Linked DNA regions of Homo sapiens. The protein of the gene in region 2 purifies or fractionates together with the protein of the main gene of each other region. This does not show direct contact. Each region holds a gene or a part of one and is shown on either strand. Other genes may lie near its edges.

Region 1 (3,198 bases), on a different chromosome or scaffold from region 2:
TGGGAAGATGGATGGAAGCTGAGCCTATGGGCTGGTCTCGAGGCTAAAGCTTGGCCAAGCAGGAGGGAGGGCAGTGGGGGCTAGAAAGCGCTGTGCCTGTTTGGACATTCTCCAAGGGATGTGGAGGGGATGTGGAGGATGCTGGCAGCCCTCCACTGGCACTGCCCACCCCTCCTACACTGCCTGAACAGTTTTGGGCACTGGCAGGAGGCTGAGGAGCACCAGGAGACCCAGTGCCTCAGGGTGCAGCGGGCTGGTGAGGACCCCCACAGCTTCTACTTCCCTGGACAGTTCGCCTTCTCCAAGGCCCTGCCCCGCAGCTAAGCCAGCACTGGTAGGCACCAGGGGGCTGAGAGCACCGTCTGGATGAGGCCAGCCCTGGGAATGCTGAGGGGCTGGGCTGGGCTTTGGGAGCCTGGGAGGGGACAGGTCAGAAGCCTGGGAGGAAAGCTGGGACTGGGGCTGAAGCAACCTCCCTCACCCCCAAACCTGTTTCCCCTTTTGTCTAGAGATGCGTGGTGCCTCCAGGACCGCTGCGGGTGGTAACCAGTGGAAGACCCCAGCCCCCAGGGAGAGGAACCCGTTCTATCCCCAGCCATGATAATAAAGCTGCTCTCCCAGCTGCCTCTCAGCTCCTTGTGTTGCACGACTTCCTCCTTAGCGTAGCTCAGAGGCGGCCAGAGAGGGCAGGGGGACAGGACCCTTCCTCTGGGACCCCTTCCTGTGGGCAGGGTGAGCAGAGCCTCCTGTGCTCCAGAGCCAGAGGTGCCCCCATGAAATGCCAGGCAGGGATGCAAATGAAAACAGAAGCATTTAATAGATGTGTGGACAAGAACGGGCAGAGAAGGTGCTGCGGGGAGGGGGTAAGTGCAGGAGCAGTCTGGAGAGGCACATTTGCAAGGCAGGGGAGTCCCACTTCCAGGAGTGCTCTGGGCCACTCAGCCTGCCTACTGTCTCCCAACAGCTGAGACGGGAGGCTGGCCCATCCCTACCTTTCTCGCCTGTAGCCTCAGGAGGAAGTAATTCCTTCCACTAAGTTGCAGGCTGGAGCAGCCCAGAGTGGCAGCAGCTGCGGACACAGGCTCACGGATGTGGGAGCCCTTACACCTGCTCACAGCCCTTCAGTCTGTCCTTGCAGCATGTGGAGGGATGGTGGGGAGGGGCTGCTCTCAGGATAGGGATAAAGCAATAGCCCAGTGTGCAGGGCCAGTGACCAGTGTGAAGCAACTAAGACGAGTGTGGGGGCAGAGAGGGGAACTGGGGGCAGCGAGGCCACCTGCCAGGCTGTCCTGGGCCATAGGCCACGTTCAGAAGACGAAGGAAGAGGTGGGGCCCGCAGAGCTGAGTACCTGCTCCGCCTGGGCCAGGCTGTCGCTGGCCTGGCGGTCCAGGTCCCAGCACTCCTGCAGTGTGTCCTGGAACTGCCGGCAGGCCTCCTCCAGGATGGAGCTGCTCCGGCTGGGCCAGGACTCCCAGTAGCCTGGCTCCACCCAGGGCTGGGCCTCGGTGGCTCTGGGGCCTGGACTGGAGCTGGGACGCAAGGAGCTGTCCAGGTCTCGGCACAGCTGGTAGAACTCACTACCACGCCCAATCACACGCTCACCGTCGATGACTTTCAGGCCAGGCAGCAGCTCCCGGACTGCAGCCCAGTAGGAGGGGTTGGCACAGAGCGGGTTGCTGAGCCGGGCCAAAGGGTCTCGGAGCCGCAGGTACTCCAGGCACGGTAGCCCAGCCAGACACTGCAGCTGGCCCGGGGTGGCCAGTAGGTTGCCTGCGGCATTGAGACTCTGCAAGTTCTCACAGGTGGCCAGTGGCTCCAGGCCCGTCAGCCGATTGTTGGAGACATTGAGCACAGCTAGCTGGCGCAAGGAGGCCAGCGGGCCCAGGTGGGTGAGCGCGTTGCCTGATAGGTCCAGCCACTCCAGGCCCAGGCACTCTCCCAGGCAGCCCAGGTCAGCCAGTCCCAAGCCACGCAGCTTCAGTAGCAGGATGGACTCCAGGGAGAACTCGCCTGTGCGTGACTTCAGCAGCTGGGGTGTGATCTGCAGTCCGCCAGCCTCTCCCGGCTTCTCCGCTGGAGGGTCCATGAGATGGAAGTCGGTTGGGATGGCCTGGGCCCTGGCAGGACTGTCACAGGGTTCCACTGGGGGTCAGCTGGTGCTCGCCCTGGCTCTACCCAGGCCAGTGCCAGGAGGCCTGGTTCCGATGCCCTGCTCGAAGCCAGCCAGTCCCTGAGGAGAGACAGTCAGTCAGCAGGCAGCACTTTCTGTGTCTTACGCAGCAGGTGACGGCAGGGAGTCTGACCCTGCTTTTACCATGAAAACCAACAATCTCAGCCAGGCAAGACCTGAAGACCAAGCTGGGACACAGGCCACAAAAGCCATCTGAGTGACAGGGATGGGGTGCAGGCCCAACCCAAGGGGAGCAGCCCAGACTGGCCCTGGCTGGTTAGGGCCATGCTGGATGGATTCAGGCCCAATATTACCAGTTCTTCCTGTCAAATCCAAACTAGGGGCAAAACATTATTTTACTTTTTCCGTAACCACTCACGATCCATCCCTATTAGTTTTGGGGTGTTTTTTAAACCGTTATTTTTGAATAGGCAATAGGTAACCACCATCACCAGTTTCTTTTGTTTTCTTTCTGGGATAATCAATGTATATGCAATGCAAACGAGAGCACATGTGCCTTGTTTGATTCACTCAGTATTACTGCAATTCTTTCTAACAGCAATGAATTCAAACTTGTTTCCAGATTATATGGGTCAGCTGGTACCTCTGGTTGGAGCTGTAGAGCATAAGAAGTTGGCCTTTAGTCCTGAAGGAGAAAACTGAGGTCAAGGTAGTGAAGGGACAGGGAAGGCTGGGGTAAGTGGCCTGGCTAGGTCGCACACCCTTGCTCTCACTTCACTGCCCGCCAAAGCTAGCTCTTTTGCTCTGGACTCAGCTGGACAGATCAATGGAACAGCACTGATATACGTGCCAGACAGCACGGTGCCAGCTGCAAAGACAACATAAATTTCCCAAAGGGCAGGCTGTCTTGGAGGGAGGGAAGGGTGGCTCCAGAAAGCCGGGAGGGGCACATCAAATTGCCAGGGGCTGCAGGACCAGGTGAGTCCAGGTGCCAGCGCATGACTGTGGCACAAAGCAGGGGTGGCCTGGTGGAGGGACCTCAAGATTTAAGCAGTGAGGAAAATAA
Region 2 (4,047 bases):
ACATCATCACGTTCTCCAGTTTGTGTTTGGTATTGGAAGTTAAAACATGATTCCCTTTTCAAGTTTGGTTCTTGAGAGACTCACATGGTGTTGCTCAAGTACGTTTTGTGACAGGCAATAGCATCTTAAGAATTCTTAAGTCCAAGAAGGGACTTGCTCCTGATCTCCCTGAAGATCTCTACCATTTAATTAAGAAGTAGTTATTGTTCAAAAGCATCTTGAGATGAACAGAAAGGATAAGGATGGTAAATTCTGTCTGATTCTGATAGAGAGGTAGAGTCACCCTTTGGCTCAATATTGTAAGACCAAGCAAATCCTCCCTCCCAGTTGGAAGTGAGTAATCTACAGCCTCTGTCCTGGTCATATAAATTTGTCTATGTACTCAAGCAATAAAATGATTGTTTAATTTAAAAAAAAATTTTTTTTAAGCTACCAAACTTTTCCCATTGGTATTGGGAAGGAAATATGGAGACATCAGTGGAACAGAGTAGAGTCCAGTAATAAACCCAGATACGTAAGGAAATTCAATTTACACAAATGTAGTAAAATTATGGGAAAATAGAGACCATTTAGTAAATATTGTTGTAACAACTGTCTACTATTTGAGAGTAGGTTGGATTCCTATTACATTCCTTTCTCAAAAATAAATTCTAGGCCGGACACAGTGGCTCACGCCTGTAATCTCAGCACTTTGGGAGACCGAGGCGGGCGGTTCACGGGGTCAGATCGAGACCATCCTGGCCAACATGGTGAAACCCCGTCTCTACAAAAAAAATAATAATAATAAATAAATAAATAAATAAATAAATTCTAGATGGATAAAAGATTTAAGTGTAACTTTTAAAAAAACTTATTATTTTGCCTTAGTTGTAAAAGTAACACATACTCATTTTAAAGGATTTGGAAAATATAGGATGATATACAGGTAAAGCATTTTAAAGTTAAAAATTAAGGAATGCCTTAGTAAATAATCATTGACTCAAACAGCAAATTAAAACAAATGACAAAGTAACTAGCAAGCAATGAAATGGAGGGAATATTTGCATATCACAGACTATTGTGTAACCATAAAAAAGTGAGTAGAGCTATTTTAAAGTTAACTTGGGAACCATAATTTATTATTGTTAAGAGAGAAAAGCAAACTCTAGAAGTATGTACAATACTCTGTGAAGTGAGTACTTTTTACTGCAAGTAGGACAAACCCAATTCAATTGATTTAACAGGAAATTTTTTTTCTCTTTTTGAGACAGGGTCTCCCTCTGCCACCCAGGCTGGAGTGCAGTGGCATCATCGTGGCTCACTGCAGCCTCTCCTCCTAGGCTCAAAAAAAAAAAAAAAAAGGAATTAATCTAATAGATATTTAGAGATGTGGATCTGGTCTTGGCAGTGAGGTCAAGGCTAGACAGATATTTTGGTGGTATCGTTGAAAGCATAAGAATAGAAGACATCTTCAGAAGAAAAGAGCACAGGATTGAGAACTCAACTGAAAACATATGCATATTTAGTAATAAGGGAAGAATTTAAAAATAATTTTTCTTAAAATCTTTTAACACTTGTTTCAGTTATTTTATAGTTTTGTCTTTTTTTTTTTTTTAGACAAGCGTTCACTCTTACCACCCAGGCTGGAGTGCAATGGCAGCAATCTCAGCTCACTGCAACCTCCGCCTCCCGGGTTTACACAATTCTCCTGCCTCAGCTTCCCGAGTAGCTGGGATTACAGATGCCTGCCACCATGCCCGGCTGATTTTTGTATTTTTGTAGAGACGGGGTTTCGCCATGTTGGCCAGGCTAATCTTGAACTCCTGACCTCAGGTGATCCACCCGCCTTGGCCTCTGAAAGTGCTGAGATGACAGGCGTGAGCCACCGCGCCCCGCCACTTTTGTCTTTTGAAAATGCTTTTTCATAGTGATGAATGGAGGAACCATAATGAAGAAATATACTTATTCTGTATGTGTTCTCACTATGTATTTACTAAATGCCTGTATTTTTTACCTTTTTAGAGCTGTATTATAAAGCGATACTGTGAGAAAAGATTCGTGTCTAAATACCTGGCAACAATTGGAATTGACTATGGAGTCACAAAGTAAGTATATTGTTTCCCTGGGTTTGTAAGTTACATAGAAGTTCAGAACTTTCCAAAATGATCCATATTTGCATCAGTGCTCTTGTGTAGGTAATCTTGAAATGGAGACTTTGAAGATAAGTTGGGAAAGATAGGAATAGTAGACCTTTACAGGTATCTAGTGATCATATCATTCATTCAGCCTGTGTATTGGTATTGAGCACATCCCATTCACCAGGCCTCGTGTTAGGTGTAGGCTACAGCAATGAACATGTCAACACAAAGCCTAAATGGCAGGTGTAACTTTCCAGGAAACATGTTTTTATATTAGCAGGTCCTTCCAGCAGGTGTGTTTTTAGAGCATTTTGAAATATTCTCTCTAAAAAGTCTATAAATATTGTGTGGAACATTTTCTACCAGAGAAGTTTTTTTATTGGTTTATGATCTTCATAGCTATTAGAATCCAGCAAAAATGGGCCAGATGCAGTGGCTTATACCTGTAATCCCAGCACGTTGGGAGGCCGAGACGGGCGGATAACGAGGTCAGGAGTTCAAGACCAGCCTGACCAACACAGTGAAACCCTGTCTCTAAGAAAAATGCAAAAATTAGCCGGGTGTGGTGGCACACACCTGTAGTCCCAGCTACTCAGGATGCTGAGGCAGGAGAATCACTTGAACCCGGGAGGCAGAGGTTGCAGTGAGCTGAGACTGTGCCATTGCACTCCAGCCTGGGCGACAGTGAGACTTCATCACAAAAAAAGAAAAAAAAAATGAATTGGGAAAAGTAAAGTTGGGTCCAATTGGGGATTTATCTGGAGATGAGTCAGGAGGGGGTTGAGCTTGAAGAGTTGGATATAATTAGCAGGAAATACCCATACAGTAGAATTGGGGTAGATAGCATACTCCTTAAACATGAAATTTCAGGTGTTCACTATCTTGGCCCCACTCTGGCCTTTCCCCTTTTGTCTTTTCTGTTACACACTTTACTTTCCATCCATGCTGAACTGCTACCCTCAGACTTTCTACCTCAGCACCATTATCCAGCCTGTCCACTTGGAACAGCCCTGCCCATTTCTCCAAGATATAAACATTCTCCTGTTCCCGTAAGGTCTTCTAAACATGCCCTTTATTGGTCAGGACTCTTTTTGGTTGCAAATGACAGAAATCCTAAAGTTGTCTATGGTATTTATGGTACTTACCAAAAATTGCCTTGTATTGTTATTATTTGTATATGTGTAATGTCTCCTGCTAGATTATAAACTCCCTGAAAATTTATTAGTATAAATTTTCTCCAAGTGCCTGGCATAGTGCTTATACCTAATAGGTACTCAATAAATATTTATTGTTAGGTAAGATAGGTACATCTAAAGAGGAAGTTTGCCAGATTAGACTATGAGGGCAATATTTAAGAAGGTAGACTAAAGTTTTGACATATAGCTAGCAGAATGTCGATTAGGTGAAGAGTGGAGTCAAGTTCAGATGTATCCTTCATGGCTTTTTAAAGTGGCCCCAGTAAATGGTAGAGTAAAACTCAAGAGTTGTGTGTAATGCTCTTACAGCACCATTTTTCAACTGACAGCAGCAGAGGGTATTTCTGCAAATTTTCTTTAAAGAATGAAAATTGTAGCTCTTGGCAGTGAAATGTATGAAGCTCTTCATTTGAAATTCACATTTCTGGCTTGGCACGGTGGCTCATGCCTGTAATCCTAGCACTTTGGGAGGCCAAGGCAGGCAGATCACCTGAGGCCAGGAGTTTGAGACCAGCCTGGCCAACATGGTGAAACCCTATCTCTACTAAAAATACAAAAATTAGCCGGACGTGGTGGCAGTTGCCTATAATCCCAACTACTTGGGAGGCTGAGGTGGGAGAATCACTTGAACCCCGGAGGCGGAGGTTGCAGTGAGCCAAGATTATGCCACTGCACTCCAGCCTGGGCAACAGAGTGAGACTCCTCAAAAATAAATAAAAATAAAAATGAAATTC
Region 3 (2,676 bases), on a different chromosome or scaffold from region 2:
GGTGAGGAAGTCGGCACCGGGCAGCGGGTCCCGTTTGGGGCTCACTGGCTCAGAGGCAAATTCTAACCACCTTATCAGGTATGATGGCTGCGCAGACACCCCTCCCCAACCCTCCCGATGCTGACCTGCCGAAGGGACAAGGAAAGGGTGCACAACCGTGCCTGGGCTTCTCTGCTGGTGGCCTTGCAAAACCCCAGCAAGGCAGGGGAGCGCCCGAAGGAAAACAGAGCTGGTTCTTAGAGTATTGTGATTGCATTTTTTCTGATAAAGATAGCACACTGCTTGTCATAAGCTGTTTCCCTTGGTTTCTGTGTTTCTTTTCTAATCAAATTACCCCAGTTGACACACATTTAAGCAAATAGTTTCATTTCAGGTCACGGGGACTTAGCCCTGCAATCAAGGAACTGAATGAAATTCCTGGCAAAATACAGTAATTAGAAACACAATGAAAGCAGAATTGAAATGTCCCAGCCTCCCCACAACACCAAAAGGAAGTCTGGTTAATTTCCAAATTATATTTAGGATCAACAGGCAAGGGGTTCTTTTTCATACGGGCAGAGAAATTAGGACCAGACATCATTACAATAACCACACAAGACTAGGAATGTAATTATAAAATAAACCATACCCTAGCAAGCAAATTATTTTAATGTGTTTCAAGAATTGAATACTCTGTATGGAATTAAAAACAAAGAGAAAAAAGCAACGTGCAGAAAATTAATTAAAAAGAGTTAAGACACAGAAACTTCGAAATGTCATAAAATTACAAATACAAAAGCAACAAATTAAAAAACATACACGATTGCAGATTTCAGTAACATCAGTAGCCAGAACATACCCAATGAATCACTTAATCATCAAATATCTCGCTGATTTTGAAAGGGGGCTAGTGGTTGATGATTTAACCTCAATCAATCCAAAGGACATGACTCTTTCCTTACATTACAAGCAATCTGTAAAGATGGCTTTAAGTACCTTTGAAAAGGTGGAGTGTCCTTTCTCAAAGGAAACAGACAAGGAAGGGGTTATCCGCTCTGCCCCCCCACTACCGAAATGTGTACATTCATTCAACTCTGGTAACTAAGGCAACCAAAGGACAATTTCTTTTCTTTTTTTTTTTTTTTTTTGAGACAGTCTTACTCGGTCACCCAGGCTGGAGTGCAGTGGCGCAACCTCGGCTCACTGCAACCTCTGCCTCCTGGGTTCAAGCGATTCTCCTGCCTCAGCCTCCGGAAGAGCTGAGATTACAGGCGACCACGACTGCCTAATTTTTGTATTTTAGTAGAGACGGGGTTTCACCATGTTGGTCAGGGTGGTCTCAAACTCTTGACCTCAGGTGATCCGTCCCCCTTGGCCTCCCAGAGTGCTGGGAGTACAGGCGTGAGCCACTGCGCCCGGCCCCAAAGGACAATTTCTTGAGACCCCCACACACCTTCAGAACCACACATTCTGTTCATGTTAAAAACAAGAAATTAACAACCTCTAAAGCTAAGGACAATGATTCTGTAAAGTGCAAGAATGGTTCATTGTTTCCGCTTTTGTGGATTTCATGTTAAGAATACTTTAAAAGAAAGGGTGGGCGGGAGTAAACCAGGACCCCAGTCATATATTTGATCAAGAAATGACCCGTATGGCAAAGGTGAGACGTGGACCAGCCCTCAGGTGTCTCCAACTCTGTGCACACCACTGAGGTAGGAGCTCTAGAAGAAACGCAGACCCTCTCAGGGGGGTTAAGGTTTCCTCTTGGCAAATGAGCTGGGGGCCTGAGACAGTCATACCCACGGGCTGCATGCAACTTTGCATGCAACTTCACGAAATTCTAGAGCTGTATCACATCAGCGATGGAGAAGGGCAAGATCCAAGACAAAGCCACATGAGGCGAGGTCCTGGTGCTGCCATTTGTTGTCCAGCACAAATCAAGGGGCCGGAGGAAAGGGATGAGGTGGAAAACCCCGGCAGGCATTCTACAAAACAGTTATTAGCAAATTGTATCAAAAAGTATCAAAACATTTCAAAAAACTCTAAAAACTGCCAGGCTTGGCAGATGCGCAGGACAGGGTCTCCAAGTGCCCGTGGCGCTGCCCTATACTCCAGGCATTTATCCTAGAGGCCAGGATGCCACCCCCTCCCCTCCCCTCCTGGGCACTCAGAATCCACGGAGACACCAGGAGGTCTAAACCTCATCTGCAGCTGCCCCTCCAGGTTTGGGACCAGTGGACGGGGTTCCAACCACGGGCTCTGACAGCCACAAGGCCCATGAGATGCTGCTGCACCATGGAGGACCAGGGTGAAGGATGAAGGTCAGTGACTCTACAGGGGGTGGTGGGGGGTGTGGCAGGGGTCCCCTCACTTCCCACATTGCTGCAAGTCACTGAACGATCACTTGGCTTAGGGGCCGAGGTACACTGAACCACAGGTGAACACAACTGAGCTCACAAAGTAGGCCCCTGGACCTCAGAGGATGGACCCCACTTCCCCTCAGCATCTGGATGCCCACCTCAAAGGTGAACACCCCTTAGGGTGAGTTTCTGGGTCTCCATGAAGTCACCTTATCATGAGTGAGGGCACTCAATATAAATACACACGTGTGGTCCTGCTCAGAGCCAGGTCTGAAGTCCCACTTGATAGCCTCAATAAAATGGCAGAACAATAAAAATACCAATTGCGTGCTAACCA
Region 4 (4,047 bases), on a different chromosome or scaffold from region 2:
AAACTTAGGGAATAACCGACAGAAAAAGAACAGTACAAAGAACATCCACATACTCTTTTACTCAGAATCGCCTATTTTACCCCATTTTGTCTCATGTATCTTTTATTCTATTTCCATATTCTGTTTTCTATATGATGAAATGAAATGCTTTGAGAGTAAGGCATCATACTTCCTTAAACGTAAGATCAGCTTCGATGTGCATTTCCTAAGAATAAGATATTTTCCTTTTCTTTTTTTTTTTTTTTTTTTTTTTGAGATGGAGTCTTGCTCTGTCACCAGGCTGGAGTGCAGTGGTATGATCTCAGCTCACTGCAACCTCCGCCTCCCGGGTTCAAGTGATTCTCCTGCCTCAGCCTCCTGGGTAGCTGGGACTACAGGTGTGCACCACCATGCCCAGCTAATTTTTGTATTTTAATTTTAATTTAATTTAATTTTATTTTTGAAATGGAGTCTTGCTCTGTTGCCCAGGCTGGAGTGTAGTGGTGCTGTCTTGGCTCACTGCAACTTCTGCCTCTTGGGTTCAATCGATTCTCCTGCCTCAGCCTCCCGAGTAGCTGGGACTACCGGTGCGTGCCACCACACCCAGCTAATTTTTTGTATTTTTAGTAGAGTCAGGGTTTCACCATGTTAGCCAGGATGGTCTCCGTCTCCTGACCTCGTGATCTGCCCGCCTCGGCCTCCCAAACTGCTGGGATTACAGGCATGAGCCACTGAGCCCAGCTAGAATAGGAAATTTTCTTGCATAGCCATAGTACAGTCAACTCCAGTAAACTTAACATCAATAGAAACACTTTTATCTTCTTTACCCAACATTTGTATTCCAGTTTTGTCAACTGACCCAATCATCTCTTGTAGCAATTTTTCTGGTCGGTATAGAATCCAATCTAGGACAGGCACTGCATTTAGTTGTCAAGTCTTCAACTGGTGTGTTTTTAAAAGCTCTCTGAGTGGAGGCTATTATCTTAAGTTAAATAACTCAGGAAGAGAAAGTCAAATATCACATGTTCTCACTTGCAAGTGGGAACTAAATAATGTGTACACAGGAACACAGAATGTGGAATAATAGACACTGGAGACTCCAAGGGTGGGAGGCTGCAGGGCGGATGAGGGATCATAAATAGCTCCTGGGTACAATGTATCCTATTCGTGTGATGGTTGCACTAAAAGTCCAGACTTCACTACCACGTATTGTATCCATGTAAAAAGCACATTTGTACCCCCTAAATCTATATAAATTAAAAATAAATACGTATTTTAGAATCTTTTGGATACATTGATATAGTAAACAAATAAATAAGGGCTCTGTAGGTGATTTTAATGGGCACCTTGGGCCTTGGGTCATTGTGTAAATAAATATTTACTACACTACCACATAGTGAGTGCCTACCAGGTGTAAAGTATTATGAATAAAATTAAGGAGCTTATTACTTTAAGGACATACTATCCACAAGTCAACTATAATATCATAGGGATAAGTATCATGAAAGAAATATTAACAAACCTATAGGAGGAAACTATAATTAAATTGAACAAGTTTACTGAGGATCTACTATGTGTCAGACTTTGTACAAACTGCTGGAGAAATGGATGGATAAGTAAATGTAATTAATACACAGTTAAAAATTAATTAACAATTTTTTTTTGGAATGGAGTTTCACTCTTGTTGCCCAGGCTGGAGTGCAATGGCACGATCTCAGCCAACTGCAACCTCCGCCTCTCGGGTTCAAGCGATTCTCCTGCCTCAGCCTGCCGAGTAGCTGGGATTACAGGTATGCACCACCATGCCCAGCTAATTCTTTTCGTATTTTTAGTAGAGATGGGGTTTCTCCATGTTGGTCAGGCTGGTCTCAAACTCCCGACCTCAGGTGATCCACCTGACTCGGCCTCCCAAAGTGCTGGGATTACAGGCGTGAGCCACTGTGCCCGGCCAGTTAACACAGTCTTAATCAGAAAAGTAAGGTTTTTAAAAGGTTTTTTTTTTAGAGGAGGTGGGACTCAAAAGATAAGCAGATTTTACTTTTAGAGAGGAAGACATTTCAGGTGAGGAAACTTCAAGAGGAAAGCTAGGTGAGTGCACAGTGGAGTAAGGAAAGAATCGTACTTCCCTGTGACCTGAGAATTGGGTGCGTAGGGATGTACTAGGAGATTGTGCTGAAGTAGGCTGGATAATGTATGGTGGTACAGTCACTTCGCAAAACAATTTGGCAATTTCTTAAAGAAGTAAAAGTTATCATACAACTTAAGAATTCTGCTCCTAGGTATCTACCCAAGAACACATAAAGACTTGCACGTGAATGTAATCTTCATAGCAGCATTATTCATAAAAGCCAAAAAGTAGAAACTCAAATGTCCATCAGCTGGTGAATGGATAAATAAAACACAGCATACCCATAGAACAGGATAAATAAGTAATAAAAAGGAACGAATTAATGATATGTGTTACAATGTGGATGAATCTTAAAGAATTAGATGGAAAGAATAATTTATTATATGGTTTCATTTAGAGATAATTTAAAGAGATAGGAAGTAGATGAATGGTTGCCTGGGGCTGTTGGTGGGAACAGAAACTGACTACAAATGGCCACAAGGGAAGATTTCTTTGGGGTGATGAAAATGTCCCTAAAACTGGATTATGGTTATGGCTTAATGACTAAAACAATGTTGAACTGAACAATTAAAACAGGTGAATTTTATGGTATGTAAATTATACCTCAATAAAGCTGTAAATATTAAAAAAACTGTTAATCAAAATTAGGCAGAAAGAAAATAGGAAGCACAATCTTAGAAATAAAAAATATAATTATTGAAATTCAAAAAACTTAATAGATGGGAAAAACTCTGGATTGGACAAATTATTTAGAAGACTGGCAAATTGGAAGGCAAGGAATTCACCAGGATGCAACACAAAGACAAAATCTTTTTTTAAAAAAATAACATCTCAGGATATAGATAGTGAGGCTTCCTCACTTACCTAATGGTAGTGCCAGAAAAGATAATGGAGGTAATGGCTAGGAAGCAATATTGCAAGAGAAAATCAGTAATAATTTTCCAGAATTAAAGAAAGCATATGCACCCCTGTAATCCCAGCACTTTGGGAAGCCAAGGCGGGAGGATTGCTTGAGCTCAGGAGTCTGAGATCAGCCTGGGCAACATAGTGAGACCCTGTCTCTACAAAAAATTTTTTAAAAATTAGCTGGGCATGGTGGCTCATGCTTGTAGTCCAGCTTGAGTATGGGAGGTCAAGGTTGTAGTGAGCTTTGATCACACCACTGCACTCCAACCTGGGTGACGTAGTGAGACACTGTCTCAAAGAAAAAAAAAAAAAGTACCTCCTCCTTTTGCAGAGGATAAAGATAAACTAACACCAAGACAGTTCTAGAAAACCTGCTGGACAGTAAAAATAAACAAAACAAATCTGAAATGTTATCAAAGAGAAAAGGCAGCTTATTTATAAGGGAATGAAAATTAGATTGGCAGTAGAATTTTTAACCAGCAACACTTAGTACCAGAAGACAGTGGAGTACTATCATCAGTGTGGTGTGGGAAAATAACTGTTCACTAGAATTTTATATCCAAATAAATCATCATACAACAGTGAGGGCAAAATTAAGACATTTCCAACAATGAATTCCCTCCCATACCAAGGCACCTACAGAAAGAACTATTAAAGGATGGACTTCAGCCAGAAGAAAAGTGAACCCAAAGGGAACACTGTAGATTCAAGAAAAAGAAATAGCAGAAAAATTGATAAAATGTCATAAATTTAATTAACTTTTAACTATAAAAACTATTTTTAAATTTAAGAAGTAAAAACAGATTGAATGCGGTGGCACATGCCTGAGCTTTGGAAGGTTGAGGCGGGAGGATTGCTTGAAGCCAGGAGTTCGAGACCAGCTTGGGCAACATGGTGAGACTCTATTTCTACAAAAAATTTTTGAAAAAGAAAATATTAGCTGGGGGTGGTGGTGTGGACCTGTTCCTAGCTACTTGGGAGTCTGAGGTGGGAGGATTGCTTGAGGCCAGGAGCTTGAGGCTCCAGTCAGCCAT
Region 5 (4,047 bases), on a different chromosome or scaffold from region 2:
GCAATCTTCTAGATCAAAGTTAAGAATACACACCCACAACCCAGCAACGCTACTTCTAAGCAGATACACTCGCGAGAAGCTTTGCTCAAGGATGCTGCCACATATTTACAATACTGAAGAGGTGCCTATCATTGAGGAGTAAGTTAGGATATTCATTTAACAAAATACTACAGAATATTTAAAATGAAATAACTAGATCTACCAGTATCAACACGTAACAGTTACACAAATAAAAACAAATGATTTTAGGGCTGGGCACAGTGGCTCACACCTGTAATCCCAGCACTTTGGGAGGCCGAGGTAGGTAGATCACTTAAGGTCAGGAGTTTAAGACCAGCCTGGCCAACATGGTGAAACCCCATCTCTACTAAAAATACAAAAAAAATTAGCCGGGTATGGTGGCGGGTGCCTATAATCCCAGCCACTCGGGAGGCTGAGGTGGGAGAACTGATTGAACCCGGGAGGCGGAGGTTACGGTGAGCTGAGATGGTGCCACTGCACTCTAGCCTGGGTGACAGAGAGAGACTGTCTCAAAAAAATTAAAAAAAAAAAAAAAAGATTTTAGAAGTTATAAAACATTGGACACACGTGTGTTAACCAAGAAAAATAAAATAAAACCAAAATAACAATGGTGAGGACATGCAGGCTCCTGTTAAGAGATGCCAGCGGGGATCAAAAGCAAAGCCCTGAAGCCAGTCTTTATCCAAAAGAAAGTCAGGTAATAGGTATCAAAATAGTCCTGGTCTTTGGGTCATAGGACTAGGAAGTTAGTTCCTCCTGAGTGAAGTAAACATATATTTTAAAAACTCACAGAAAGGGACGCCTCCTGAGGGCCTCAAATCTAAGCTGGACAAAGTGCCCACTTAGATGTGAATACCCCTTTAGCAGTCCAACAGGGGCCTTCAGACTGTGAGATGCAGGCACAGCAGAGCCACCCAGAAGCCAGGCTCTTCAATTAAGGACAGTGGCATTATCAGCAAAGCACCCAAGCATGCCTCTGTGGACATCTGTCCTATTGACGTTCAATGAAGTATGCAGGGTCCTCCCAGACCACTAACTAATTTCTGTCTCAGGGGTCACATTTGAGCAGCCAGAGTCTCAAGCCACAGAGAGAAAGATGGAGCAGTCCTCAGATCAGGCCAGAGGCTGGGCCACCTTAGGGGAGCGGGAGCACCCACAGGTGAGGTTACCTCACAGACGCCACATCGCCGGCGCTTAAAGGCGTTCTCCTTGTCTTCTCTGTCATCCTTTTCAATTTGCTCTGCGAAGAAAGTATCGAAGATCTGGTAGACCAGCTTGGTGGTGGTGGCTTTCGTGGGTCCCCTGTCCTTCTCCCTGGTAGAATGCCTGATGGTCTGCCGCCTCGCCTGGGCTCGCCTACGGGAGAGGTTCCAGCATCTCAGAGGACTGGGACAGAGGATGTGGGCCATGCTCTACCCTCCCCGGTCTCCAGTCTTCACTCTGGTCCCTGCCGCATCCTTACCTCTGTCCCAGCGTGACCCCAGCCAGCTTGATCAGGTCCCGCATGCAGGGTGTCAGGAAGATGGGCTGCTCATCACTGTCCCCGGCCTCGTCATAACTCTCCACCTGCTCCACCACAAACTGCGCGTGTCGCAGGAGGGAGTCCTCTGTGAAGCGGTTCAAGTTGAGGCCAGAAGGAGGAACCGTGGTCTTGAAAGAGAACAGGTTTCTCTCATGCTTAAGCCAAACTGGCCTAAATCCAACTGAAGAACAGTGTCTGCTGGTTCTGAAGGCAAGTTTCCAGTGGGAATCCCGGATGCTGAGGACCCTCGATCTCTTACCTCGATCTTGTTGATCAGGTCCTCATAGGTCGAGTCGGAATTGCTCTGCAGGAACTCCACCACAATCTTGCTGATGTAGATCTTCTCCTGCATCAGCCCAAATATGGGCGCATACTCGGGACTGGGATCCATCAGAATGTATTCGGCAAATGCTGGGGTGAACAGAGGAGGTGTGGAAAAGGGGCTGGAATCTGATGGCGCCTACAGTGGCCACAGGGCATGGAGGAGTCTACCAAACTCACCCAACAGTCTAAAAGTCATCCCGTACCCAAATGTCAGAAACATAGGGCACAACACATCATAGCTGGCTTGTTCTGAAGAAGCCTGTCTGAGCCAGCCAGAGAGCGAAGACTAGCTGAGTAGGCCTTCATTGAGCTCATCTCTGGTGTTTGGAATTCAGTCTGGGTTTGGGTTGCAAGAATAAGACCTGCTCTTTTTTTTTTTTCAGGGGAGGACAGAGTCTTGCTCCGTCACCCAGGCTGGAGGGCAGTGGCGTGATCTCGGCTCACTGCAACCTCTGTCTGCTGGGTTCACGTGATTCTCCTGCCATAGCCTCCCAAGTAGCTGGGATTACAGGTATGCACCACCATGCGTGGCTAATTTTTGTATTTTTGGTAGAGAGGGGGTTTCACCATGTTGGCCAGGCTAGGCTGGTCTCGAATTCCTGGCCTCAAATGATCCCCCCAACTCGGCCTCCCAAAGTGCTGGGATTACAGGTGTGAGCCACCATATCCGGCCAAGACCTGCTCTTACAACTGGAGAGTCAGTTCCAGAGCCAGTCATAACTAACACAAGAGGCTACCCCAACTGAACCTGCTAAGGTTCCCAGTCACATGGCCTTCTGCAAGCCTGCTGAGAATTCCCACCAGAGCCCCGTCAGCCCCCAGGAAGGAGAACATGAAGGCCCCTTTCAGACCCCGGCCAGCCTATGATGGGCCACACACTTACAGGTGCTGAAGCCGATGAGGGCCTTTTCACCTCCATCAAAGCCAGTGATCCACCATTCATTTATGGGGCCAAGATTTTTGCCATTAACACCACCTAGAGCAGAAAAAGGAAATGGACTAAAGGCTCTGACTCACATCCCAAACCCAGGAGGCGCTCTAAGCGCCCACTCAGCAGACATCCCATCAGCCAGGTCGGGTGCTCCTCAGTCATCACAATGACTTGGCCTACAGCTGCTCCTGGCACAAAGTCTCACACCCTAACTTTAAGAGGCAGCAGCAACTCCAGCTGACTATTGCTTCATAAGTATGTTTTTTATTTATACATATATATAAGTATATATGTATACTATATATATATGCTATATATTTTTTTTTAATAGAGGCAGGCTCTTGCTATGTTGTCCAGGCTCGTCTCAAACTCCCGGGCTCAAGTGATCCTCTGGCCTCAGACCCCCAAAGTGCTAGGATTACAGATGTGAGCCACCCTGCCTGGCTGTTTTTAAAGTGTGCCCCAAACATAATCCCGGACTATTCCTTACCTTCAAGAGATGGGTCATCATCATAGATTGGTTTTGCTGAACCAGAAAAGAAGAGTTCGATATTCTTCTCGATGAGGCCGGTGTCGATGGGACACAGGTGACCGTGCTTACAGTACACACTAGACAGGAAACAAAGCACATGCTTACCAGCTAAGCCGTGAAGGCGGGTCTTCGTGCAGACTTCAGATCAGGCACGAGGCAATGAGAGAATGTACAAGTCTGACACTCTTTTTTTGTTTGTTTTTGAGACAGAGTCTTGCTCTATCCCTCAGGCTGGAGCGCGATGGCATAATCTTGGCTCACTGCAGCCTCCACCTCCCGGGTTCAAGTAATTCTCCTGCCTCAGCCTCCCGAGTAGCTGGGATTACAGGCCTGAACCACCATGCCCGGCTAATTGTTGTATTTTTAGTAGGGACGGGGTTTCACTATGTGTAGCAGGCTGGTCTCAAACTCTTTATCTCCAGTGATCTACCCACCTCAGCCTCCCAAAGTGCTGGGATTACAGGCTGAACCACCATGCCTGGCCCCGACACTCATTTTTTGGTTGCGGGAACACTGGATTAAGACAGCGTTCTATCACCCAGAGTTTCTACCTTATTCTCCCACCTAAGCATCAAGTGTATGTGTGTCTGCAACAGCAACACCAAAAGATCAGTCAGACTTACAGTGCGGGAAATACCGGTTTCTAGAACACCTTCTACTATGCAGTGCAGCCACTAGCTCTATTCAGCTGCAGAACATTTCTGTCACTCAAATGTT

What was found.
Region 1: the proteins of DNAJC27 (region 2) and LRRC61 purify together in Homo sapiens (affinity purification with mass spectrometry; one large-scale study listed by BioGRID and IntAct). This does not show direct contact.
Region 3: the proteins of DNAJC27 (region 2) and KLHL36 purify together in Homo sapiens (affinity purification with mass spectrometry; one large-scale study listed by BioGRID and IntAct). This does not show direct contact.
Region 4: the proteins of DNAJC27 (region 2) and FAM184B purify together in Homo sapiens (affinity purification with mass spectrometry, with the first as the bait; one large-scale study listed by BioGRID). This does not show direct contact.
Region 5: the proteins of DNAJC27 (region 2) and DNMT1 purify together in Homo sapiens (affinity purification with mass spectrometry, with the first as the bait; one large-scale study listed by BioGRID). This does not show direct contact.

Annotation. Positions count from the first base shown.
Region 1 is NC_000007.14:150,335,751-150,338,948, reverse strand, and holds the end of LRRC61 (leucine-rich repeat-containing protein 61), read right to left. Parts: intron 2,232-3,198; 5' UTR 2,088-2,231; coding exon 1,308-2,087; 3' UTR 793-1,307; downstream 1-792. Other genes in the region: RARRES2 (retinoic acid receptor responder protein 2 precursor), read left to right, coding at 208-324.
Region 2 is NC_000002.12:24,965,248-24,969,294, reverse strand, and holds part of DNAJC27 (dnaJ homolog subfamily C member 27), read left to right. Parts: intron 1-57; exon of another isoform or gene 58-412; intron 413-2,001; coding exon 2,002-2,084; intron 2,085-4,047. UniProt on the Homo sapiens protein: GTPase which can activate the MEK/ERK pathway and induce cell transformation when overexpressed. May act as a nuclear scaffold for MAPK1, probably by association with MAPK1 nuclear export signal leading to enhanced ERK1/ERK2 signaling.
Region 3 is NC_000016.10:84,665,511-84,668,186, reverse strand, and holds the end of KLHL36 (kelch-like protein 36), read right to left. Parts: 3' UTR 501-2,676; downstream 1-500.
Region 4 is NC_000004.12:17,774,763-17,778,809, forward strand, and holds part of FAM184B (protein FAM184B), read right to left. Parts: intron 1-4,047.
Region 5 is NC_000019.10:10,153,103-10,157,149, forward strand, and holds part of DNMT1 (DNA (cytosine-5)-methyltransferase 1), read right to left. Parts: intron 3,408-4,047; coding exon 3,289-3,407; intron 2,844-3,288; coding exon 2,751-2,843; intron 1,955-2,750; coding exon 1,803-1,954; intron 1,672-1,802; coding exon 1,484-1,671; intron 1,378-1,483; coding exon 1,191-1,377; intron 1-1,190. UniProt on the Homo sapiens protein: Methylates CpG residues. Preferentially methylates hemimethylated DNA. Associates with DNA replication sites in S phase maintaining the methylation pattern in the newly synthesized strand, that is essential for epigenetic inheritance.